Regions from separate parts of the Homo sapiens genome. Here all the other regions are linked to region 3. The links come from fine-mapping of genetic effects on gene expression. A gene starts in region 3. Each other region holds a variant in brackets. All regions are shown on one strand. Distances are between the middles of the regions.

Region 1 (8,179 bases), 31 kb after region 3:
CTCTCCTAGCCTCCATTTCCTCATTTGCAGAACAGAGATAACCACCTTGAAGAACTGTAGTGAGAAACAGAGAGGGAAAGCACTTGTGCAAGGCCTGGAGCAGAGTCAGCCCAAAAGGATGACAGCATGTCTGTGTGTAGTCAGCTGCACTCTCGAATGAGTAGTGTGTGCACATGGCACAGCCTGAAGAATGGCCACTGGGGGATACGGTCTCCCTCCTACTCCTGTATCTCTGTGTGTGTGTGTGTGCGTGCGTGCACACGCGCACATAGCATGCCCTATTCTGTACTTTGCTTTCGTGTGTGTGTGTGAGCATAGCATGCCCTGTTCTGTACTTTGCTTTCCTATGTGTGTGTGCGTGTATGCATAGCATGCCCTGTTTTGTACTTTGCTTTCGTGTGTGTGTGTGTGTGTGTGTGTGTGTGAGCATAGCATGCCTTGTTCTGTACTTTGCTTTCCTATGTGTGTGTACATGTATGCATAGCATGCCCTGTTCTGTACTTTGCTTTCCTCTGTGTGTGTGTGTGTGTGCATAGCATGCCGTTCTGTACTTTGCTTTCACGTGAGTGTGTGTGTGTGTGTGTGTGCATAGCATGCCTTGCTCTGTACTTTGCTTTCGTGTGTGTGTGTGTGTGCGCGCATAGCATGCCCTGTTCTGTACTTTGCTTTCACGTGAGTGTGTGTGTGTGTGTGTGTGTGTGCATAGCATGCCTTGTTCTGTACTTTGCTTTCCTATATTATGCATCTTGGAGAGCCTTCCAAAATGAAAAAGTAGCTTCTTTTTTTTATAGCTAAAATATCGCATTGCATGGGTGAGCCATAATTATTTAGCCAGTCCCTGTTGATGGACAGTTAGGTTTTTTCCCAACCTTTTGCTCTTTTAGTGTTCCACTGAATAAGTTGGTGCAAGTTTGACCTGCAGGATGAAGTCCTAGAAGTGGAACTGTGCATTGGTTTTTTTCATGGTTATTGTCCAACTGTAACCTACAGAACCTGTACCTTCCACAGCCGTCATCAGGCCAGTGTCACAGGCTTCCTCATGTTTGCCAATCTGTGCACCCTGAGTATGCATTTATTTTCTCTTAAGTGGGGATGAGCAACACGTTTTACATGTTTTACAACCATTTGTGTTTTTTATTCTGTGAATTATTTGTACTTATATTTTGCCCTTGCCCACTTTTCTATTTGGTTTTTGGTTTCTCTCTCTCTTCTTAAATTATTTATTATTATTATTTTCAGAATAGGGTCTAACTCCATTGCCCAGGTTGGAGTGCAGTGCACCATTATAGCTCACTGCAGCCTTGAACTCCTGGGCTCAAGCAATCCTCGTGCCTCAGCCTCCTGAGTAGCTGGGACTACAGGAACACAACACCACACCTGGCTGTTTCTTTCTTTTTTTCTTTTTCTTTCTTTTTTTTTTTTAGCTAGTCAAATTTAGCAGTGGGAGACTGTATACCAACTTCAGTGACACCAAATTTAATAAGTTCTCATAACCTACTACCATCAGACCAGACCTTTCTTTTTTAAAAAGTTATTACCTGGCTGGGCGTGGTAGCTCACGTCTGTAATCTCAGCACTTTCGGAGGCCAAGGTGGGTGGATCACCTGAGGTCAGGAGTTCGAGAGCAGCCTGGACAACATGGTGAAACCCCGTCTCTACTAAAAATACAAAAGTTAGCCAGGGTGGTGATGCATGCCTGTAATCCCAGCTACTTGGGAGGCTGAGGCAGGAGAATCACTTGAACCCAGGAGGTGGAGGTTGCAGTGGGCCAAGATCATGCCACTGCATTCCAGCCTGGGCAATAGAGTGAGAGTCTGTCTCAAAAAAAGAAAAAAAATGTTATTACTTTGTAGGAGCTCTTTGTAGATTGTGTCAGTGAAATGAATGGCAAATATTTTTCCCGGTTTGTGTTTTATCTTGCAATGTTGTCTGTGGTGCTTTTGCCATTCAGAATGAAAAATTTTTTTGGCTGGGGGAGGTGGTTCACAACTGTAATCCCAGCACTTCGGGAAGCTGTGGCAGGAAGATCGCTTGAGCCCAGCAGTTTGAGAGCAGCCTGGGCAACATAGTAAGACCCCATCTTAAAAGTAAATACATAAATAAATTTAAAAGAATTAAAAAATTTTTAAGGTAGTAGAGTTTACCAATCTTCTGGTTATATTTGGCAAGATCTCAGATTATTTGTTAAAAATCTCCCAGGTTTGGCCGGACGCAGTGGCTTATGCATGTAATCCCAGCACTTTGGGAGACCAAGGCGGGCGGGTCACCTGAGGGCCGGGAGTTTGAGACCAGCCTTGCCAACATGGTGAAACCCCATCTCTACTAAAAATGCAAAAATTCACTGGGCATGGTGGCAGGCACCTATAATCCCAGCTACTTGGGAAGCTGAGGCGAGAGAATCGCTGGAAACTGGGAGACAGAGGTTGCAGTGAACCAAGATCACGTCACTGCACTCCAGCCTGGGTGACAGTGTGAGACTCTGTCTCAAAGAAAAAAAAAATCTCCCAGGTTTTCTGCTAGCACTTTTATGGTTTAATTTTTTACATTTGAATCTTCATCAGGAATTTGTTTTCATGTAAGGCTTGAGGTAGGGATCGAGCCTGGTTTTTCTCCAGACAGGGTAGCTATTATTATGTCATTCGCCCCCTTCAATCATGCTGTTACTCCATCCTCCTTCATGACTAATACCAGGCATCAACAAAAACAAGCCAAAATCACATCTGGTGTTGGTGGTAACCCAGGCCCTTTGCTAGTAAGCAGCTGGTAGTCAGTGCTGTTTGGACCCCAGGTTGCCATATACCCTCTGAGCACCCCCTCATTCCAAAGGGCTCAGCATCTATTTAGCAGTAGCTTCCACTTGCTCACTGGGGTTCTGTGTGGGTTCAATTCATCTCCTCAAAGACTGGAACTGTCTTTCCTTGCCAGGGTCTTTCCTGGCCTGTGCCTGTGATAGGCCTTTTATAGGAGACTCCGGTAGCCGAGCTCCACTGTGCACCAGGTGCTTCCTGTACACGGCCTCTGATCCCCAGGACCCCGTGAGGCAGAGATGCTTCTCCCCATTTACAGTGAGGAAACTGAGTCAGCGAATGAAAGTGGGTCTCTCAAGGTCACACTGTTAAGTGACCCAGGCAGGATTCAAATTCAGGTTCACCTAACTCTGAAGTTGTAAGGCAGGTAAATTTTTTCCTCTAGCTTATCAGGGTCACTGACTGGGACCAAGAATTAAACTGACATAAGACAAACGAGAAAAGCATACAAATTTTATTGAGTAATTTGTACATGTACATGGGAGCATTCACAAGCAAAATGAAGGCTCAAGAAGCCGTTAGGGCCGAAAGCTTATATACTTAGTTGGACAGAGAGTAGTGAATTGTGAGAACGTGACAAGACAAAGAGGTTTGGGCTAAGGCAGTTCATCGTGGAGAAGTGACAAGGCAGATGAGCGTTAGTTTAACAAGGTTTGTTCACACAGATTCCCCTTGGCCCGGACTCCCTCCCTCTGATGATAAGAATGGCTTCTTGGCTGGGCACAGTGGCTCACACCTGTAATCTCAGCACTCTGGGAGGCCGAGGTGGGTGGATCATGAGGTCAGGAGTTCAAGACCAGCCTGGCCAAGATGGTGAAACCCCGTCTCTACTAAAAATACAAAAAAAATTAGCCGGTCATAATGGCAGGTGCCTGTAATCCTAGCTACTCAGGAGACTGAGGCAGAGAATTGCTTGAACTCAGGAGGCAGAGGTTGCAGTGACCGAGATCGTACCACTGCACTCCAGCCTGGGTGACAGAGTGAGACTACGTCTTTAAAAAAAAAAAAAAAAAAAAAAAAAAAAAAAAGAATGGTTTCTTTCCTCCTGGTACAGGGAGGGCACCTTTCCCATGGGAGATTTAACTTCTGCTTTCAGGAAGAAAAAGGGAGGTCAGGGTGTCCTCTTTGCATTTTCTGTTTTTAAGTATCTTTTTTTTTTTTTTTTTTTTTTTGAGACAGAGTCTCACTCTGTCGCCCAGGCTGGAGTGCAGTGGCACAATCTCGGCTCACTGCAAGCCCCACCTCCCAGGTTCACGCCATTCTCCTGCCTCAGCCTCCCAAGTAGCTGGGACTACAGGCACCCGCCACCATGCCTGGCTAATTTTTTTTTTTTTTTGTATTTTTAGTATAGATGGGGTTTCACTGTGATAGCCAGGATGGTCTCAATCTCCTGACCTCATGATCCACCCACCTCGGCCTCCCAAAGTGCTGGGATTACAGGCATAAGCCACTGCTCCCGGCCTTTAAGTATCTTTAACTCAAAATAATCACTATGCCAAAGCGGCATATTTTGGTGTGAAATGCTCTGAACCCCATGAAAGCCATGGCTCCTTCTACCCTGCCTACCAGCCTCTAATAAAAACCTGAGCTTACAGGGAGTGAGCACTTGCTAGTGCTCAAAGAGCCTCACATGTGTTCTCTCACTTGTGTCAAGGGTAGGGGCTATCAATCGCACTTTACAGACCAGGAAACTGAGGCATGGAGAGGGTAGGTAGCTTCTACACGCTTTCAGAGCCAGCAAATGGCAAAGCTGAGACTTGCACTTGGGCAGGCTGACTCGAGTCCAAATTCTTACCCACAAAACCAAATTGCCACCTGCCATTATCTAATTACACTTAGTTGTTGATTCCTAAAGTGCAGTCTATTGTTTCTAGAGTTTAAGTGCCATTCGAGAGGAGTTGGAACTGCCCAACATTGAGAAGATGATCCTAGAATGCAGTGCTGACATCAGTGAGTTGTTCGATG[C/T]GCTCATGACGCTGGAGATGCAGCTGGTGGAGCAGCTGGAGGTAAGGCTGGGCCCTGGGCACAAGTGCCAGAATCTGGCGATGCAGCTGCACATCCATAGGTGAACTGTAGCCTTCATGGGCACGCCTCTGCTGGAAACGTCCAGCACGACTCAGCGTGGCAGGCTGTAGCTTTCTTGCTCATCAGTCCTGTTTGCTTTTATTACATTTTAATCATTTACATTGGAAGTGATTCTTGTGGAAAATGAGAGGTGAGCTCATTCTTCTGAAATGGTCCCCCTATCCTGGAAGTCAGTGGGGAGAGGTTTTTGATTAGACCCCTGGAGCTATCCGGGTACTCTAAAGGCAAAGCGCACCCCCACTTGGGGACCAAACAAAGACCCCTCCGCATTGCAGCCTGCAGTTGCCGCTTCTCAGGTGACGTGAGGAGGCTGCAACTCAGCACTAAGTAGTGAAAATGAAAAGCGCCGCTGTCTGAAATTCATTAGCAGCCAGAGTATGTGTTACAAGGCAGCGGAGGCTGGGAGTCTGAAGTGGTGTGATGAATTGAACCTCATCGGATGCTGCTGTGGCTGGGCCAAGTGATAGCACCTAATCAATTCCTCACACGTCAAGTGACACCTCAGACATGGGATAGATTTCCCCATCACATCACAGGGCAGGTGCTCCCTCCCTGCTGGAGAGCACAGGCACTGCAGAAGCAGCGCACAGTGCCAGGGGCGAGTGAGGCAGCAGCTCCCAGCCTTTTCAGGCACGGAGATTGCCTTTCAACATCCAAACATTTCCCAGAACCCATGTGCCATCCTACTTGTATTACTGGTGGCCAGAAAGCCACAAGCGCAATCATGCTTTTCAATGACCCTATTTTTATTCACGAGAACAGCACATACATGTGTTTGAAAATTATGTGAGGTGCTCACTCTGCAGACAGTACTCACATTCCTATAGATTCCACCCCTGCCCACCTTGCAGCCCCTGGAGTCTATAGCAGATGGGAGTGGGGCACTCCGAGAGTGGCAGGCCTGGAGATCACATCTTCCATTGTTCCTTCAATCAACACTAACTCCCATTTGGGCCTTAGGTGCCTTGCTAAGCACCACAAAACAGCAACTAACTGAAAGAGATCTGGAGTGCCAGCCCGCTCCTACTGAGGGCCTCCTCTCTGTCAGGCACCTTGCAAAGCATTTTGTGTGAAGTGACTCATTTAACCTCACCACAACGCCACAACGCAGGGATTATGCAGGTAACCTATTTCCCAGATGAGGAAGATAAGGCCCAAGGAGGTGAAATGCCTTTCCCAGAGTTACACAGAGTGCTGGAGCTGGGAATACTGACCCAGGCAGTCTAGCTCTTAACAGCTCACTCCACTGTTTCCCTGGAGGTGATGCACAGATGTCACTGGGAAACCCAAAGGAGAGGGGGTTGGCTGTGTGTGTGTGTGTTGGGCAGGCAGGTAAGGGGAGTAAGACCAGGACAAGTGTTCCTGGCAAAGTTCCGGTGACAGCATTAAACATTCAGATGGTGAGGGAGTTAATATGGTTGGAGAACAACAACTTTAGAGAGAGCAGAGGGGTCAGTTCACAACCATCTGCTCAGGAGGGTCAAGATGGGTGGTCTTTATGCTGAAGGTCTGTGATTAGAGGAGCTGGTTGCTAAATTTTGAGGAGTACCTTTTGCTCTGTGCTGGACATCTAAATATGCATGTTAACTGTGTTCTTTAACATTTCCAGGAGACTATAAACATGTTTGAAAGGAACATTGTTGACATGGTAGGACTGTTTATCGAAAATGTCCAAAGCCTATATCCTTTCTGTGATGACCTTCCCCATGGGGAGGTGCTACAGAGCCCCTGGGCTTGTCCCGGCCTCTGGACAAAAGAATGTTCCACAGGGTCTGAGGAGGTTTCCCGACCCTCAGAACAATGATGGCCTGGTTAGAGCTGTGGTTTGGATGCCCAGAGGGACAACATCCAAACTGTTTGCAGTAGGCTCCCAGCATGATTGTTCTCATATGAGTGATGTTCACTAGGAAATGACGCCCCCTGTGTTGCAGGCAAGCACACTCTGGGGTTGAGGCAACCCCCACGTGGAAGACACTATAAGGAGTACATCAGGTGAAATGTTAGGGTGAGGAGCCAACATCGGAGCATGGCCAACCCTTCTTCCACCCGAACTCAGGGCACTCCACATGGGGCAAACTGCTGTGCTCCAGCTAGCAGCAGCCCTGTGGTCCTGCCCTCCTGGGGCTCACAGTCCCTCAGGGAGACAAGTTGTAGAGGCAACAAGTGGTGCCAAATGCACAGGGTGAGAAGCAGTTAACCCAGAGGCCAGGAGCCTCCATGCAGGAGGGAGAGAAGAGTGTGATGGCAGGGGCCGAGGGTCCGTCCGAGGTGTGGGGCAGGGGCAGGGAGTCGAGGAAGGCCCAGGGTTCGGAGCTTGTGAGTGGACGGTGCTGCCAGCCAGAATTTCCGAGCTCGCCTTGGGCCCTTAAAGTCTGTCTCCCGCCGTCTGAGAGCATCAGGGACGCGCCGGGCCTGCTCCTCCCGGGCCTTTGCTTAACTCGGGGCTGCACGATGGCTCAGTGCCGGGACCTGGAGAATCACCACCACGAGAAGCTCCTGGAGATCTCTATCAGCACCCTGGAGAAGATTGTCGAGGGCGACCTGGACGAGGACCTGCCTAACGACCTGCGCGCGGTAGGCGGGGCGGGCTGCTCGGAGCCTGACAGATGTGGTCCAGCCCAGCTCTGTGGCTGGACTGAGGCTCTGTGAGTAAGCCTGACAACCTCCCAGAGCCTCAGTGTTCTCATCTGCAAAAGGGCACACTAACCTGCTTTACAGGGTTGCTGGCAGATAAAATAGGCTAACAAAGCACCTGGTGGGGCACCCAGTGGGGCCCAGTTAAAGAGGAGCTCATGATAATTAGATGGTTTCAACTTTCCAACAGGGTCGTTTCCAAAAGTTCAATTATGTGGAGGCTTCTGGCACTTTCTAAGAGAAGCAGTTACAGGTAGAGGTTGAAGTCTGAGATTTCCCCTGGAGGTCTTCTTAACCTTAGAGTCTGTATAATGAGTACTGTGGGGGTGTTGGAACCACCATTTCTGATCCTGCACAATGCCATCCGGTTTGCACCAGCACATCCACTGATGAATGGTCACAAAATCAGCAGGGTCGGCCTGAGGAACCTGGCTCCATCCCTGGGGTCTGCACGCTAAGAAGGCTCTCCCGGATGTCTGCGCTGGGTCCCGCGGCAGCATGTCTATGTCTCTGGAAGGAGTGTGGGCATCAAGGGCCCAGACAGAGATACTATGTTGTCAGGGCCCAGACAGAGATACTATGTTGTCAGGGCCTGCTTTAGTGCATGCATCATTCACTCCACTGCCAGTTTCTCAGCTTCTCTCTGTCGCGAC
Region 2 (8,179 bases), 78 kb before region 3:
CTGCCCTCAGCCATGGTCCCCACACAGTCAGCAGGGACAGTGCAGTTCACACCCCTTGTGATAACTGTGCTTGCCATGCGGTAGGCTAGCCACCCTGCTGGGCCCGCCACCCTGCAGACAGGCCTCGGGGTCAGAAAGCTCTACCACAGGACATGCTTTGTGAGAAGAAGCCACCATTTGTTTTCCTAACATGAATTCCTGGGGGTATTGAGGTAGGGGAGTGCAGCCCCAGAAGGAAGGGCTGTGGTAGAGTGGGGTGTATGAGGAAGGTAAAGTGCATGCACACGTGTGTGTGTGTGTGTGTGTGTGTGTGTGTGTGTGTCAGAGGGAGACAGAGAGACAGAAGGATATTGGGTGGGCAGAACAGGGACGAGGGACAACCCTAGGGTAAACAGGGGAAGGCCTCCCAGAGTTCCTCAGAATTAACTACATTCACTCATTCATTATAAAGAAATACTGAACACCCGCTCTACACATTACACTGCTCTAGACCCTGGGGACAGCATGTCCCTGGGTTCTTAGGGAACGAAGAATGAGGCAGACAAAAGAAATGTTAGCAAAGCCAGTCTTGAAGACCACAAAAAAGGATGATGTGAGACAGAGAGTGTGTGTGCTTAAAACCAGCTGGAGGCCTCCGAGGCACCTGTGAATGAGGAGGAGGAGTCACTGCTCTGAAAGCTGGGGAAAGACCTTTCAGGCAGAGGGAAGTGAGCACAGGGAATGGACAGAGGCTCCTCTCCAGCTGCACACCTGACCCATCTGAGAGCCCGGCCTGCCCCGGCACTCCACTTCCTGCATTCTCCGCTGCCTCTGCCTGGTTGCCTCCCTTTGCCCTTGCTGGAGCCCCACGCCCAGCCCTAGGTTTGTCTCTCCTCTTGGCTCCTGCAGGCCCTTGTCTTGCCTCTGCCACAGCACTAATCACCCAGGCTGGATGTGCCTGTTGACTTATGTGCCTTCTGTGTCACCACGTGCTCTGTCTAAAACCCAGGTCTGCACACATCCCAGCTCAGAGCCCTTCGATGTCTTCCCACTGCCTACAGGACCAAGCATGCCTCCTCAGCATGCATGGCCACTGGCCTCTGGGCATCCTTCTGGTCCCATCTCCTGCCTGCTCCCCCACCCCAAGCCCTGCCCCCAACATTCTTCATTACACCCCCTTCCCCACATAGTGGTCTCTACAACATGTCCACAAATTATTTGATCCTCCTTTCTTCAAGAGATGGAGTTTATTTCCCCTACTCTTGAGGCTAGGCCTGGTGACTCCCTTCTAACAAATAGAATATAACAGAAAAAAATGGTATGTGACTTCCAAGGCTAGGTCATCAAGACCTAATCTTGATGTCCACATGGTGATAAACTCAGGTCTCTTGCCAATAGTCATCAAGGAACTGAGGCTTCCTGCCAACAGCCATGTGGGTGCACCATGGTGGAAGTGGAGCCTCCAGCTATAGTCGAGCCTTCAGACAATGCAACCTCAAGAGAGACTCCAAGCCAGAATTGCCCAGCCACCTGCTCCTGAATTCCTGGCCCACAGAAACTAAGAGATAATGAACATTTTCCGTTTGAAGGTATGTTTTGAGGTAATTTGTAACACAGTGAGTGATAACAAATACAACCCAAATATGCCAACTGCTCTCTTTGATGCGTCTGGGCCTTTGCACATGCTATTCTCCCTGCCTGTGAAGTCTCTCCCACTGACTTTTCCACCAAACTCCCCATCATTCTTCAGGGTCCAATGGAAATGTCATCTCCTCAGTGAAACATCCCTTAACACCATCCCCAGCCCCTTACCTTGCTCCGCCTGACCCAGAGTTGGCCCCTGCCCTGTGACCTCACCAAACCCGCACGTAGCTCTAACATGGTTCTTCCTACTCCAAGTTTTCTCAGAGGCCTGTTGAGGCCACCCTACCTGCCTTTGTGAGCAGCAGAGGGATGGCACCCAGAAAGCTTCAGGAAGGCTCTGTTAACTGGCTGGAGAGCCATCAATTAGAATTTCATTCCAGTGGGATGAGAATTTTTTTTGAAGTATTTTGCACCAAATATTTTAAATGTAGAAGTCTCCATTTTTTTTTTCCTCCAAATGGTGGGAGAGCATGAGGACTCATCAATAAGAGACTTCATCTTACTCTGTTCCAACAAATTGGGCAAGGGGTCCAACCTACCTGGATCAGAGCAAGCACTTTGTCCTGTACAATGGTGGGAGGGTTGTTCTTGGGAGATATAATTTTGACCAGAACACTGTCGATGAAATCTCGGTTGGCCACAAGGATGTGGAAGCGGTGGCCACAGTTCTTCACACATGTCTCCAGCACCTGATGTGGGGAGGGAAGGAAAAGGGTCACCCCAGTGGGAGCTGGAGAAGACACTGGGAACTGAGGAGCGCAGCTGAGTTTCCACCATCCCCTCTGTCTTGCTCCTAGATCAGCTTTCTGACACGTCTCCTCCAGAGCCAAACCTGCATGGCACACGCATTCCCACACTCCATTCTCCAGGGATGACAGCAGCCCCTTACTGACTGAAGTCTCCTGTCCCTGCACAATAATCAGGCAATTAGTTGGTAATTGAGGCACCAGTTTTGCATGAGAAGGATGCTAGTGTTTTAATGGGATCAAAATGACTGAGCGGTCCCTGAAAATTAGCATTTTAACTCCTCTCTCTGGGCCTCTGGGTATAAGGCATTAGCCAATCGGACATGGGCTCTGTCACAAGAGGAGGCTGCTATGACAGCTTGAATTGCTTAGTGAGTTACTGGCCCTTATATGTGAGAAAGCAAATGCACACACACATCCCCCACTCAACCCTGCTTCTGCAACCAAAATTGGCAATGACAAAGGATTTTCCACTCTTGACAAATGGTTTGTGGACCTCAGCTGCCAGGTGACTTTAATGTCCATGTTCAATTCAGACCCTGCCTGCTCCTCCCTTGTCTGGGAAAACAAGTGACACAGGCTTTAGCTGCTCAGAAAAGCCCAGCATACTGGTTCTGGCCAGACGGTCAGTGAGAGCTTGAACCTCAGCTCCACCACTTTCTCCCTGAATGGCCCAGGACAGATCTTTCTGAGCCTCAGCATCCTCATCTGTAAAGCAGAGATGATGAGCTCTCCCTTGCAAGATTGTTGGAAAGATTAGCAAGAATACGTTTAAAGCATAGGCCGGGCATAGTGGTTCATGCCTGTAATCCCAGCACTTTGGGAGGCCGAGGCAGGTGGATCACCTGAGGTCAGGAATTCAAGACCAGCCTAGCCAACACGGCGAAGCCCTGCGTCTACTACAAATACAAAAACTAGCCAGGCTTGGTGGCACATGCCTGTAATCCCAGCTACTTGGGAGGCTGAGGCAGGAGAATCGCTTGAACCTGGGAGGTGGAGGTTGCAATGAGCTAAGATCGCGCCATTGCACTCCAGCTCAGGCAACAGAACAAAACTCTGTCTCAAAAACATACATACATACATACATACATACATACATACATACATACATGCATGCATGCATGCATAAAATAATGCACATAGCAAAGTATCCTGCATAGGGGAGGTGCCCAATAACTGATGACCATGATTACGTGATTACTGTTCAGAAGGCTGCTGTACACACGACGAAGGGGATGGCCTCTTATCCTCCCATAGGACAGGTATGTAGCCTCTTGGAATTCGGAGGTGCCAACTGGGAGTGCTCTGAACTTCCCAGCACTGTGTAAACCAACCCATAGGATTACCTGGCCCTTCCCATGCCAACAGCCCCCAGTGCCACAGTCTACTAACTGGGGAATGCCTCCTCAAAACGATGTCACCAGCAACAGGGAACATTTCTGACTACCTCAATTATTCTCATTTGCCCAAACTAATCCAACCACTGGTTAACTTCTGCAGCCATCCCACAGGGCTAGGTCCAAGCAAGTGGGCTTTACCTGGACAAAACATAGCCGTAAAGAAAGGTCCATAACTGGAACACTGACTGAATGCGACTATATGCCAGGCACTATGAGAGATCCTTCCATAACATATGGAGTTTTATCCAATTCTCACAACTAATTACTTCTCCTTAAGTGGACCTTAATATCCCATGTTTTAGAGTTAAGAGGTTTAGAAAGGTGAAGACATTGATCTAGGTACAAATTGTCAGTCAGTGCCAGAAGGAGCACAAGAGCTGTGATTAGCCTTCTCTGGAGCCCCAGTCTCCTCGCCCACCTTGAGGCCACAGGGCCATCCCTCCCTCACAGCTCTCCTCCAAGCAGCCACATCAGCTAAGAGTGCCTCAGATGACAGGCAACATGTGTTAGATTTATTGTTCCCCCCTTTGGTCCTTGAAATAACCCTGTAAGATGGGAATCATCCCATTTTAGAGATGAGGAAGCTGAGGATCAGAGGTACCATGTAACTTAACCTAGGAGGCCAAAGCTGGGACTCCCCATGCCAGGCAGCTCCGCAGCCAGCCAGAATCGTTCCTTGCCTTGCTGCTGGCTGCACCTTAGGAGGCCCCGGGTTCCTCTGGGCTTGCCAAGGAAGATTCTGGAGGTTAGCACCCTCAGGGCCTCTGAGTGACCACAGGTTTTACTAAGCCAAGGAGGCATTTTCCTTTCTGAGTCTCTGCTTGTGCCTGATTCTGGTAACCGTGAGGTAATTGGCATTCACTCTCTTGTAGTGATCCATGGGGGCACTGAAATGAACCAGAGGGGTTCTTTCTGTTCTCAAGGGCCTTACAGGCACCCTTCTCTCTAGGATTCTCTAAAACCTTCCTCCCAACTCAGGCAGTGGGGTGTTGGGGTCAAGGCAGATGGCAAGAAGTATGCTTTATTTTGTG[A/G]GAAGCAGGTGGGAAAGGTGAGGCTGCAATTATGAGTGGGGAAGAGAATTGGAAAAACAGGCATAGGTCTGAGGAGTAGAGCAGCCTGGGGCTCCACTCCACTCTCAGAGCAACAGTGGCAGGAACCACTGCCCGCCATTAGGGAATACATGCTTAGTTTCTCCTGCACAGCAGTCCTCAAGGTCAGTGTGTCCCAGCCTGGTCTTGGAAGTGCCCTGGACAGAGATGCATGTGCCACAGAGCAGCCCCAAAGCCTATCTGAGCAGGAGATCTAGGAGGTCCTCCCTGGGCTGGCAAGAGCCGCTTTAGGCCACCCTGCCAAACAGGACCCTGGCAGTTTTGTCCCTATAGGTTGAAAGGCATGAAACATACAGTGGTAATTTTCCAGAATGAAGCCAAAAGCCATGGAGAAAGTAAACGGGGCCTCTAAGCAATCAGAAGTGATGTTTAAGTCCACAAATGAAGACACAAGCAGAGAGCCCCTCAGGGCTTCTTACTAACTTATTTTGGGTAAATATTAACAATTTTGGTGGGTACAGATATGAAGTCCGGAGAGGGCCACAGGAAACAGGAGGACTGAAAGTGACTAAGAGAGTAAGTGAAGCCCTATCAGCAGACGTGAGACCATGCAAAGCGCGCTAGGATGGGGCCTCAGTGTAGGGACGGCAGCCCTGCGCATTTCACAGGCCTCCCAAAGGCATGGCTGGGTTTGTAGTGAAGACCTAACCCAAGGAAAGGTCAAACAGTGTCCATCATGCCCTGCTAGAGGAAGGCAAGTAAACGCAGAGTTCACTTTAGAAAGATTTCCATCCAACACGATTACCATGAAGTTGGGTGTGTAAATGGAGATGTTTTAGATAGCAGTAAAATTCCCTGATATATTAGAGCTCATTCCCTCGTGATATGAGTTATTGAAAGCCACTCGTTTTGGGCATCACTCCTGGTTTAGTGAATGCTGTGGCTCAAATTCTGAGAAAAAATAAAATAAAAGCTTCAACTCCCTATTTCTCAACCAGTCTTTTCTCCTTTATTATTCAAATCCCAATTCCCTGGCAGAACTCTCTTAATAAGTTTTGGGGTTTCGCTTGGGCAAAAAATCCAAACAGGTTCTCTGCTTTAAAAGGAAACATGGTTGTTTTGGATAAATAACCTACTATTTCAAAGCCCCAGAGAAGTTGACCTGGTGACCTGTTACAGTTTCTATTTTAAGAACTCACTGTGGCCCAGATTTTGCCACATCTGAAAAACTGTTAGTTCTCAAGACAGAAATAACACCTGAAGTCGTCTTTTTAAATTCTCTGACAGCTTTGGTAAGGGCAAAAATCTGGTCTGTTCCTTCCTGAAAAAAATCACTTGGCTGACTTTTTCAAGAGTCTTTGTAGCTATTTTCAGTTTTTACCCCATGCAAAAGACCACTTTATGATGGCAATCCACAGCTCAGTACACCTCACTAGCTGTGAAGGCTGGGTAAACCTCCAGACCTCTCTGAGCCTCAGTTTCATCATCTGTACGGGGGAGGATAGTAAAATCTCTTTTGGAGGGTGGTTGTAAACATATTCATTAATGTCCAAAAAGTTCAGCACAGTCCCAGGCAGGGGCAGGTACTCAATAGGTGGAAGTTAACTTTTTTTTTTTTTTTTTTTTTGAGACGAAGTCTCACTCTGTTGCCCAAGCTGGAGTGCAGTGGTGCGATCTCAGCTCACGGCAACCTCCACCTCCCGGGTTCAAGCAATTCTCCTGCCTCAGCCTCCTGAGTAGCTGGGACTACAGGCACCTGCCACCATGCCTGGCTAATTTTTGTATTTTTAGTAGAGACTGGGTTTCACTATGTTGGCCAGGCTGGTCTTGAACTCCTGACCTTGAGATCCTCCCGCTTCAGCCTCCCAAAGTGCTGGGATTACAGGTGTGAGTCACCGCGCCTGGCCAACATTTTTACAAAGAGGAAACTGATATCTAGAGAAGGAGTTGGTCTCAGTCTCAGAGCAGGCTGGTGACAGAAAAGGGACCCACCCAAAACCTTTAGCTCCTCTGCTCTGGGCTTCTGTACCTGACAGCACTGCACACACCTTATCTTCTGCTCGTATACATTTACCAAATTGAAGCTCACCACTCCCTGTTTCAGAGGACAGGAAAACCCAAAGGCAATACCAGAAGGCTTTGCTGGACTCCAGTGGCCCAGGCACCAAGCCATTCAGAGGTTGTGCTAAGTGGGCAGAGGGAAGGCCCTGTGAGGGGGGCAAGGCCAGGAGCAAGGAGTTCCCCAGATGACTTCTCTCCTCAAGGAGAATAGCACTCACTGTTAATGCCAGCATCACCTCTCTGTAGTTCCGGTTCCCGTTGAGCCGCTTCTTCAGGGCTCGAATGGCATCCTTTGGCCTGGAAAAAAGAACAGACATATAAAGATACTTACAATCCCACTTGAGGACACGATCCTACAGATATGTGAACTAGTATATATGCAAGACTATTTGCTGGCTGCAGCATGTTTGTAAATGTAAAAGACTGGGAACAAACTGAATGTCCATCAATACACAACAGGTTAAATTAAATCATTGACACAATGGAATACTATGCAGCTGCAAAAAAGAATAAAGAAACTCATGCACCAATATACACCAAACTCAAAGACATGTGCATAAAGTTCTTTGCATAACAGTGTACAAAGCTTGCTATTAGTTGAGTTATAGAAGGAAAGCAAACATACATAGCACAGGTGCCAGCGTAGGGAAGAGACTCTCTAGAAAGAGCTATAACAACCTGGTAACTGTGGCTGCCCCTAAGGAAGGGAACCAAAGGCGGAGGGAGGTTTTTCACTGGACTGCCTTTTTGCAGACCTCTTGAATTCTGTATCACATGCAAGTATTATTTATTCAAAACCCTAACTAACCCACTGGTGTGTGGGTACATAGAAGAGAGTTTTTCCAGAGAAACCATATGAGAGACACAGAAGAGAGCGTGCCAGGTCCTTGTGAGCCCTGGATGCCCGGCTCTTCCTGAATTCCATGGAACTCCTTTTCCCAGAGAAAGCTTAAGTGAGTCTCCTTAAAACCCAACAAGTTTTGTGTTTTTAGGTGACAGATCTGAGGTGGATTCCCAGATAAAATCTTGCAGAATTATAGACAGTACTCAGTTCACAAATGGGCTCTGTCCAAAAGTTGGAGTGGAGCTGTTTGGAAGTTGGAGTGAGTTCTTCCTTAATTACTCTTATACCTTAGAGTCAGGATTCCCAGGCAGCCCTCTAAGTATACATATTACATGTAGGTCTTGTGTCTAACATGTAATTTAATTTATTCTAACTCAGGATTCAACAAAGCTGTGGGCCTAGCAGCTGCCCCTGGCACAAAGCCCCTGTGCTGACCTGACCCATCACCCTATGCTC
Region 3 (8,179 bases):
ATCCATTGAGGACAGGGATCAGAGAGGGACCAGCTCTCCTTTTTTTTTTTTTTTTGGAGACAGAGTCTCACTCTGTCGCCCAGGCTGGAGCGCGGTGGCACAATCTTGGCTCACTGCAACCTCTGCCTCCCAGGTTCAAGCGATTCTCCTGTCTCAGCCTCCTGAATAGCTGGGATTACAGGCGCCCACCACCACACCCGGCTCATTTTTGTATTACTAGTAGAGACAGGGTTTCACCATATTGGTCAGGCTGGCCTCCAACTCCTGACCTCAAGTGATCCACCACCTTGGCCTCCCAAAGTGCTGGGATTACAGGCATGAGCCACCACAACCAGCCTACAGCTGCTGTTTTTAATCATTAGCTTTGTAGTTGTTATTTTATTTCTGTATTCCCCCTCCCTCCCACCAATCCCCCACCCCCGCACATTCTTTTAAAAGAATACTAACAACACTAAATATCAAGAAAGTCACTTTGACACTTTGTCACAACAGTACGGAATATACATTAGAACCTAATTCTGTCCATTAATCATTTACCTGAACTGAACTGAAATGACCTATTGGCTACCTGGCAGTGGGGAGCCATCATCATCTTTAGTCAAGCATCTTATGAGCAATGGTGAATCCTGGGGCCTGGTAGGGTATTTTCCTTCACAGGTCACAGACGGGCCAGTTGTTTCACATATCCTCTCCAGATAGAAAATCCAACCCTAACTTAAATATTCTGTTATTAACAGTGGCAGTTTCAATTTACTGAGCTTCTACTATGTTCCAGATACTATGCTAAGTGTTTTCATACATTATCTCATTTAAACTACATTACTCTGTGAATAGGAATCTTTCTCTCTCTCTCTCTCTCTCTCAGAAGACTGACAAACTAAACCTCAGAAAGCAACACAATTTTCTGGGGTCACACAGCCAAGAAATGGGGGCCAGGTCAAAATTCAACTTAGGTCTCCCTGACAGAAGTATCAAGCTCTTTCCACTTGCTATATATCCCTATATCTCTTATATTTGGTTTTTTGTTGTTGTTGTTGTTGTTTGTTTGTTTTTTGAGACAGAGTCTCACTCTGTCGCCCAGGCTGGAGTGCAGTGGCACAATCTCAGCTCACTGCAAACTCCGCCTCCCGGGTTCAAGCAATTCTCCTGCCTCAGCCTCCCGAGTAGCTGGGACTACAGGCGCATGCCACCACGCCTGGCTAATTTTCTTTTTTTTTTTGGATTTTTAGTAGAGACGGGGTTTCACCGTGTTAGCCAAGATGGTCTCGATCTCCTGACCTTGTGATCCGCCCGCCTCAACCTCCCAAAGTGCTGAGATTACAGGCGTGAGCCACCGCACCCAACCACATTTGTATTTTAAATCCCCTTTAACTTCTACCCCTCATTTACTACCTTGTCATTTTAAAGGTGTAGAGCTTCCTATTATAAAGGGGACAGAAAGGAAAACAATTCTCGCAAGTTTTCTGGCTCCCTCCATTAACTGGCTGGAAATTAGTTTTTGGAGTGTGGCTGCCATGCAAGAGCACCTGAAGAGAGTGGAAAAGGACATGGGGAAGAAGTAAGGAAGTGAGAATCCAGAGACTCTCCAGTGGGCAGCAAGAGACAAGATGTCAAAAAGGTGGGAAAACACTCTTTTGGGGTCCCTCATGCATTATAAAAGATACTACGCCAGAAAGTAAAGAAAGGCTCCTAAATGCTAATTAGCCAACAGGAGAGACCTCAATAAGTTTATAGGCTCCACTAAAGGCTGGAAAGTAAGCTAAAATTTCATAAGCAAAGCAGAAAATAAACAAATCACTACTGCTGAAATCAGGCCCATAAGAACACCAAAGATCCTGGCTCATAAAAGACGTTTTACCAGTCCTTCAACCAACCAGGAGGAATCCAGTTTTCAAACAAACTAATCAGCATTCTTGACTGATCAAGTGGCATAAGCCACTGCCTTGGGTAAAAAGGCAAGTTGCTTTCTTAGTAAGGAAGTCCCATATGGTGGCCATTTCAGTATTCCTTTACCTACACTTTGGGCTTTCCTTATCCATGATTCTGGCCATCTCTGGTGTCCCCAGGTGTCCACATCCCCCCTATAGGATTAACAGATAATGCTGAGTACCATTCTCTCTACATTGCCAACAAAAGATTTCAGCTTTGGTAAACTTAATATGAGGTGGGGGAGGAAGCAACAGTCAATGTGCAGAGTACTACAAAGAATATCAAAACTTGAGAACTTTAAGGGATCTATCACATCTCATCTCCAAACACTTTGACAGACAGGGGAACTTCAAACCAGAAAGGGCACAAGGTCATATGGAGTCACTGACAAAACCACTGCTAGAGTCCAGGCTTCCATGATTCCCAGTCCAGGGCTCTTATCATTAAATAACACAGCCTCCCTTCTTTCCTGGGAGGCACTGCAGGCATGCCATCCCCCTGCCAAGATAATCACCCTCCAAGAGCCCCTCCTCCTATCCCAGTCCCTCCTACAGCACAGCTGAGTTGCAGCTCAAATTAGCAAGTCCCGGAGCAGGGGGCATTTCTGGGAGGGTGCCCAGTCTGAGGGTTGCTGGTACCGAAGAGGAGGGACAAAGATGGAGAAGAAGGTGACATCCCACAAAGGGTTTGGGAGAACTGGGTCCTTGGGGCAGTGGCAGTGAGCCTGCTGGGCTGGATAAAGACACATGCAGTGGCATCTCCCAAAGCGCATTGGGGAAGCAGACCAGCAGTTGGCACCACCTCTAGCAGCAAAAGGAAGGGCTGAGCCTTGATGGGCAGGGAAGCCTGGGGCATCTCCGAGTCCAAGTTGGGCCTCAGGGGTGCCTCCTGGCAGAGTGGCACTGGCGCGCCCGTGAGGTGGCACCAGTGCCCGGGAGGAGGCCCGAGGACACAGATGCCCTGCCTGCCCGTGGGATAGCACCGGCACCCGGCGAAGGCCCAGCCCCCCCGGGAGGTGGCACCGGCGCCCGGCGAACGCCCGACGACCAGGATGCCCAACCCGCCCGTGAGGTGGCACCGACGCCCAGTGAAGGCCAGACGACCAGGATGCCCAGCCCGCCCGTGAGGTGGCACAAGCGCCCGGCAAAGGCCCGACGACCAGGATGCCCAGCCCGCTCGTGGAGTGGCACCCGCGGCTGGCGGAGGCCCAGCCCGCTCGTGAAGTGGCACCGGCGCCCGGCGGAGGCCCGCGGTCCTCACCAGCCGGATCAGCGGCCGCCGTTGCCCAGCCTCCTGCCCCACACGCGGCCTTACCGAGGCACTGCCCCACTGGTGTGCTGAACGGGTTCCCCAGGAGGAACTCCATCTTGGGTGGACAACACGCAGCGGCCCGGGCCCCCTGTCTGCCACCTAGGCCTCCGCTGTAACCCGCCGGACTCCCGTCCTGACTGACACTTGCCCCCTCCCCACTCTCTGGAACGCCGAGCTTAGGGCCTTTGGCCCCGCCCCCTTGCCGCGTCTCTATTGGGGGACACCTACGAAGCCCGCCTCCTATTGGTCGTTACACCTCTGTCAGCAAAGCCCCCACCCACCCCGCAGCGTCCGATTGGGCGGAGGAGCGAGCTAGGTCACCGGAGTCCCTGTCAGCCGTGGCGGCACCTCCCCTGGCCCGCCCCCAAAGGGGAAGCTGCGCATTTTGATTCCTCTGTATATTGGTCAATCTAAAGGATTCTTACTATTATTGGACAAAAGACGAGTCAATCACGCAAATGGACGGAACAGAGGTGAATCTAGGAATATCCCCGCCCATAGAAAGTACTGATTGGAGAAACATTTGTTTTCTCTACGGCTGGTTGGTGTAAGGAGTGTTTCACCACACGGAGATGTGGTCACGTGACTTGTCAACTTTCACCCAGGATGTCTCCCTTCTGACTTCCCCTTAGCAACCAAGTCGCGGCGCTTGGTTCCCCAGCAACCGGGAGACGCGTCTGCTGCGTGGAACCGCCGAGTTCCCAGCGCTTGAGAAGGTGAGACCTGGGAGCTGAGGCTCCCGGAGGACTTGCAGGGACAGATAGTGCCCGACGTAACTCTTTCCTGTGACCTTTTTCTCGGAGAACGCCGGCCCGGCCCTTCTCATTTATAAAATGAGCACGTAGGTCCTCTCCCAGCCACTTTACAGTCGTGTGAGACAGCCAAGACACTTTAGTCCTGGGCTTGTCAAGCTTTTGAATAAAAAAAAAAAAAAATACTAAGGAAGCATTTCCCGAGGGAGCAGGGCCAGAATGGATTTTTAAGGGGTTCCGTCTTCCAGCCTCCTTTCATAGAAAGAGAGGTACCCGGTCCACTGATAACTTTTCCCAGAATTTAGCCATCATAACTGACCTCATAACTATCAAATGATTTCATCTTGGTACTGTATATACCGCTTTGGATGTGAATACGGCTACTCAAGTTCTGTATCCGTCTCTGTCAGTAACTCATTGTACGACTTTGGACAAGTTCCTTTACCTCCCTGGAGCCTCAGGTTCCCTAGCTGGGAAATAAGGGCATTAGGACTCCCTTTTTATGGCCTCCGGAGCTTACATGTACTTAAATAATGCATGTGCACTGAGCACACAGTAAGCATTCAGTAAGTGATTGATTTTATTCTTTTTTAAGAAAAATTTTGTTCATTATTTATTTATTTATTTATTTTTTATTTTTAAAAATGGAGACAGGGTCTTCCTATGTTGCCCGGGCTGGTCTTGAACTCCTGAACTCAAGCAGTCCTTCCACCTCGGCCTCCCAAAGAGCTGGGATTACAGGTGTAAGCCATCTCGCCCAACCAATTTTCTCCTTATTAATTCATGGCCAATAGGGACTATAGTTTTCAGATCCTGTTGACTTCAGGTTATCATTTCCCAGGAAAATTCTGGATCTGTTATCTGTGAGGAGGCCACTCCGTTGACAGTTGTGTAAAACTCTGCTGCTTTCCCCAGCTCCAACCTCTCTGGTCTTCAACAACACTATCATCAGGCAAGTCAAAGGGGACCCAGGTTGGGTGGTAAACTATAAGATCCCCATAGAAGAGGACTGTTTGGGCCTTGGCCCTGAACCCAGGACAACTGTGAGAAACACTGTGAGCTGTGGCAATGATAGTCCCCAGTACCCTGGATACAGTTGAGTCATGATTAGGAAAATGAACTCTGCCACGTGCTAAGTGTATGAAGTTGGGCATGTTAATTAACCTTTTTAACTAGCTTCTGTTTTCTTATCTGGATATTGGTGAGTATTAGCCCTACATGTAAATTAAGTTTCTAGAAATTTCTCCCATCTACATCTTGCTAACACCCTGGTCATCTCTCACCTCAGTACTTTTGCAATTCTCAGTACTGTTGCTAGAGTGAGCTTCTTAAAAACTAAGATCTGATCACATTGCTTCCCTTATTTTTTTTATTTTTTGAGATGGAGTTTCGCTCTTGTTGCCCAGGCTGGAGTGCAATGGCACGATCTCGGCTCACCGCAACCTCCGCCTCCCGGTTTCAAGCGATTCTCCTGCCTCAGCCTCCAGGGTAGCTGGGACTACAGGCATGCACCACCATGCCCAGCTAATGTTGCTGCCCTTATTAAGCCCTAGGTGCTTTCCAGGGATTCTAGGATAATAACAAAACTCCCACAGACCTCTCCAAACTTGCATCACTTCAGCCAAAGTGCAACAAGTCTGTTCTCTCCCACCTAAAGGGCCTTTCCACAAAGTTACCTCCTCCTTCTTTCCTGCTTGTCCTTCCAATCAGCCCTGTCTTCCTTGGCCAGGCCAGGTGCCCCTAATGTACAATTTCATAGTTCCCTACACCTACAAATTGTCATGGTTTGTAGTTAAATATTTGTATTATTGTTTGATTCATGCCTGAAGCTGGGTTAAAGTCCGTCTGTTTTATTCACAGCATATAGCAGTTACTCACTACCCATGTGTGGACTAAATACGTGATCTCACACAAATGCAGAAGGGAGAAATTATCCACCTTTTACAGATGGGAAAGCCAAGGCTTAGATAGGTGAAGTGAGTTGCCAAAAGATGCACAGTCAGGATCCAAATCCTGCTCTGATGTGCTTAACAAATAGCATATGTAATAACAATCCCCCATTTCCTAGCATAGCAATTGCTGGGCTTGACTGAAAGCAAACTTGATCTGTCACAGGTACCAGGCCCTGATGAAGTAGGAGGGATAAGTCAGTTAAAGTTTTGAAATCAAAATTAAGAGTCATTTCCCAAAGTATAGCACCTTTTTTTTTTTTTTTTTCTTGATGGAGTCTCGCTCTATCACCAGGCTAGAGTGCAGTGGTGCACGATCTCGGCTCACTGCAACCTCCAACTCCCTGGTTCAAGCGATTCTCCTGCCTCAGCCTGTCAAGTAGCTGGGATTACAGACATGCGCCACCATGCCCAGCTAATTTTTGTATTTTTAATAAAGTCAGGGTTTCACCATGTTGGCCAGGATGGTCTTGATCTCCTGACCTTGTGATCCGCCCACCTCGGCCTCCCAAAGTGCTGGGATTACAAGTGTGAGCCACCGCGCCTGACCTCCCCACCCCCCCCCCAAAAAAAAGGCCAAACACTTTGCAGAAAACATCAGCCAAATATAACACATTAAAATTCCCCCAAAGACAAGTTGATGACAAGTTATGGGAAACCGCAGGGGAAGCCATTGCATAAGAGTGGGGAGCTAGAGAGAGGCCGAGGTCTGGAACTGTCTTTGGGGGTAGAATCAGTCACCCCAACGAGGTGGAGCCAGTGTGAACAGATTGGAGAGAGTGGGAGGAAAAGGACCAAGGTCTTGGGAGGACGGAAGGCACAGGTGGAGAAGGGGTAGGGGTTGAAGGGTGTGGAGGCTATGCCTCCCCTGGAAGCAAGAGAGAAGTGTGCACAAGAGCTCATTGGGACATTTGATGAGGGACAGTTCAGGGCAGAGGATGCATATTTGCAGAAGCTGCATCCAAGTGGATGGTCAGGGAGGCAAGAGGAGGGCAGTCTTAGAGGGAAGTCTCTAAGACCAGGTAACAGGATTGTATGGCCCAACCTGGCTTTTCAGCAGACACCATCAGCCCTGCACCAGGAGTTTCTCCAGCAGTGCCCAGTGGAATGAAAAACAGAGCACAGGGGCTGCCTAGCATCAGGGACCAGCAGGGCAGAAGGACAGGAGGTTCAGGGAGGCCCAGATGCTGGGAAGGCATGTAGACAAAGATAGGAAGTAGGGCCAGCAGGGAGGCAAGAATCAGGGGTGGAAAGTGGGGGAAAATATCCCTCCTGGATGTCCTCACCAAGAGGGTTGATAAGGATGAGAATGTGGTCCAGCCACGAACGGCAGCCTGGAGTCAGCCTCACATTGTGACTGACCAAATCTACAGATCCCCCCTGTGCTGTGGTGTCTCAGTCAAATCCCTCTGGACCATTAGCAACAGAATCTACTGGAGGCTGGGCACGGTGGCTCATGCCTGTAATCCCAGCACTTTGGGAAGCGGAGGCAGGTGGATCACCTGAGGTCAGGAGTTTGAGACCAGCCTGGCCAACATGGTGAAACCCCGTTTCTACTAAAAATACAAAAAATTAGCCAGGCGTAGTGGTGGACACCTGAAATCCTAGTTACTCAGGAGGCTGAGGCAGGAGAATCGCTTGAATCCGGGCGTTGCAGTGAGCTGAGACCGCGCCATTGTGCCCCAGCCTGGGCGACAGAGCGAGACTCTGTCTCAAAAAAAATAAATTAATTAAATTAAAAAATAACCTACTGGAGCTAGCTTAAGTAGAAGAGGATTTCATGTGAGAAACAGGAAACTCTCATGAGGCCTGGACCTAGGGACATTAGGGACTGGAAAGCCAGCAAGAAGGAGGCAGCCTCTGTCTGTGTCGATCTGTCTGTCCTTTGTCTTTTGTTTTCTGATTCCCAGGTTCCCATCTCTGCTTTTCTCTGTGCATCTGCCTCCTCCCCCTCTTGCTCTCTGCTTAACTATGTACCCAGCCAGCCCACACTCCCTATTCCTCCCCAGCTCAAGCAGCCAGCTCCGATGGGCACTCTCATTCCACAGCCTCAACTTCACATCTCCCACGGGGAGGACGTGAATGGGCAGCTTGGGTCAGGGGCTCCCTCTGCACCAGGAGAAGCTTGTGGTGTGGTGTGGGGCATACACACATGACGGCCTGGAGGGGGTGAGGTGCTCAAGGAAGAGGAGCTGCAGGCTGACAGGCCTGGCTGGGGCTGCCCAGGGAGCACAGTCA

Direction of the effects. Alleles are on the strand shown, and positions count from the first base shown. SD is a standard deviation of normalised expression in the study named.
With allele C in place of T in region 1, the expression in esophagus mucosa of the gene that starts at base 3,844 in region 3 is lower (large effect, 0.91 SD a copy in GTEx).
With allele A in place of G in region 2, the expression in left ventricle of the gene that starts at base 3,844 in region 3 is lower (large effect, 0.80 SD a copy in GTEx).

The links. PIP is the estimated chance that this variant, and not a neighbour inherited with it, causes the effect.
Region 1: its variant is the best candidate, but not a certain one, in a credible set for the expression of DRC3 in esophagus mucosa (GTEx, PIP 0.60).
Region 2: its variant is the best candidate, but not a certain one, in a credible set for the expression of DRC3 in left ventricle (GTEx, PIP 0.60).

The regions. Positions count from the first base shown.
Region 1 is chr17:17,999,682-18,007,860 of GRCh38, forward strand. DRC3 (dynein regulatory complex subunit 3) reads left to right here. Exons shown (of 14, transcript NM_031294.4): 10 at 4,682-4,813; 11 at 6,502-6,572; 12 at 7,343-7,466. Among named protein-coding and RNA genes, the nearest start is that of DRC3, 31 kb to the left of the region's middle. The variant C/T (reference allele first, on the strand shown) is at 4,773.
Region 2 is chr17:17,891,499-17,899,677 of GRCh38, forward strand. TOM1L2 (target of myb1 like 2 membrane trafficking protein) reads right to left here. Exons shown (of 15, transcript NM_001082968.2): 3 at 7,098-7,176; 4 at 2,163-2,312. Among named protein-coding and RNA genes, the nearest start is that of SREBF1, 59 kb to the left of the region's middle. RefSeq lists an enhancer at 6,256-6,305. The variant A/G (reference allele first, on the strand shown) is at 4,801.
Region 3 is chr17:17,969,019-17,977,197 of GRCh38, forward strand. DRC3 (dynein regulatory complex subunit 3) reads left to right here and starts at 3,844. Exons shown (of 14, transcript NM_031294.4): 1 at 3,844-3,956; 2 at 4,834-4,944. It overlaps TOM1L2 (target of myb1 like 2 membrane trafficking protein), which reads right to left and starts at 3,382. Exons shown (of 15, transcript NM_001082968.2): 1 at 3,244-3,382. The coding sequence starts at 3,295. RefSeq lists enhancers at 2,875-3,444, 3,816-4,135 and a silencer at 3,086-3,135.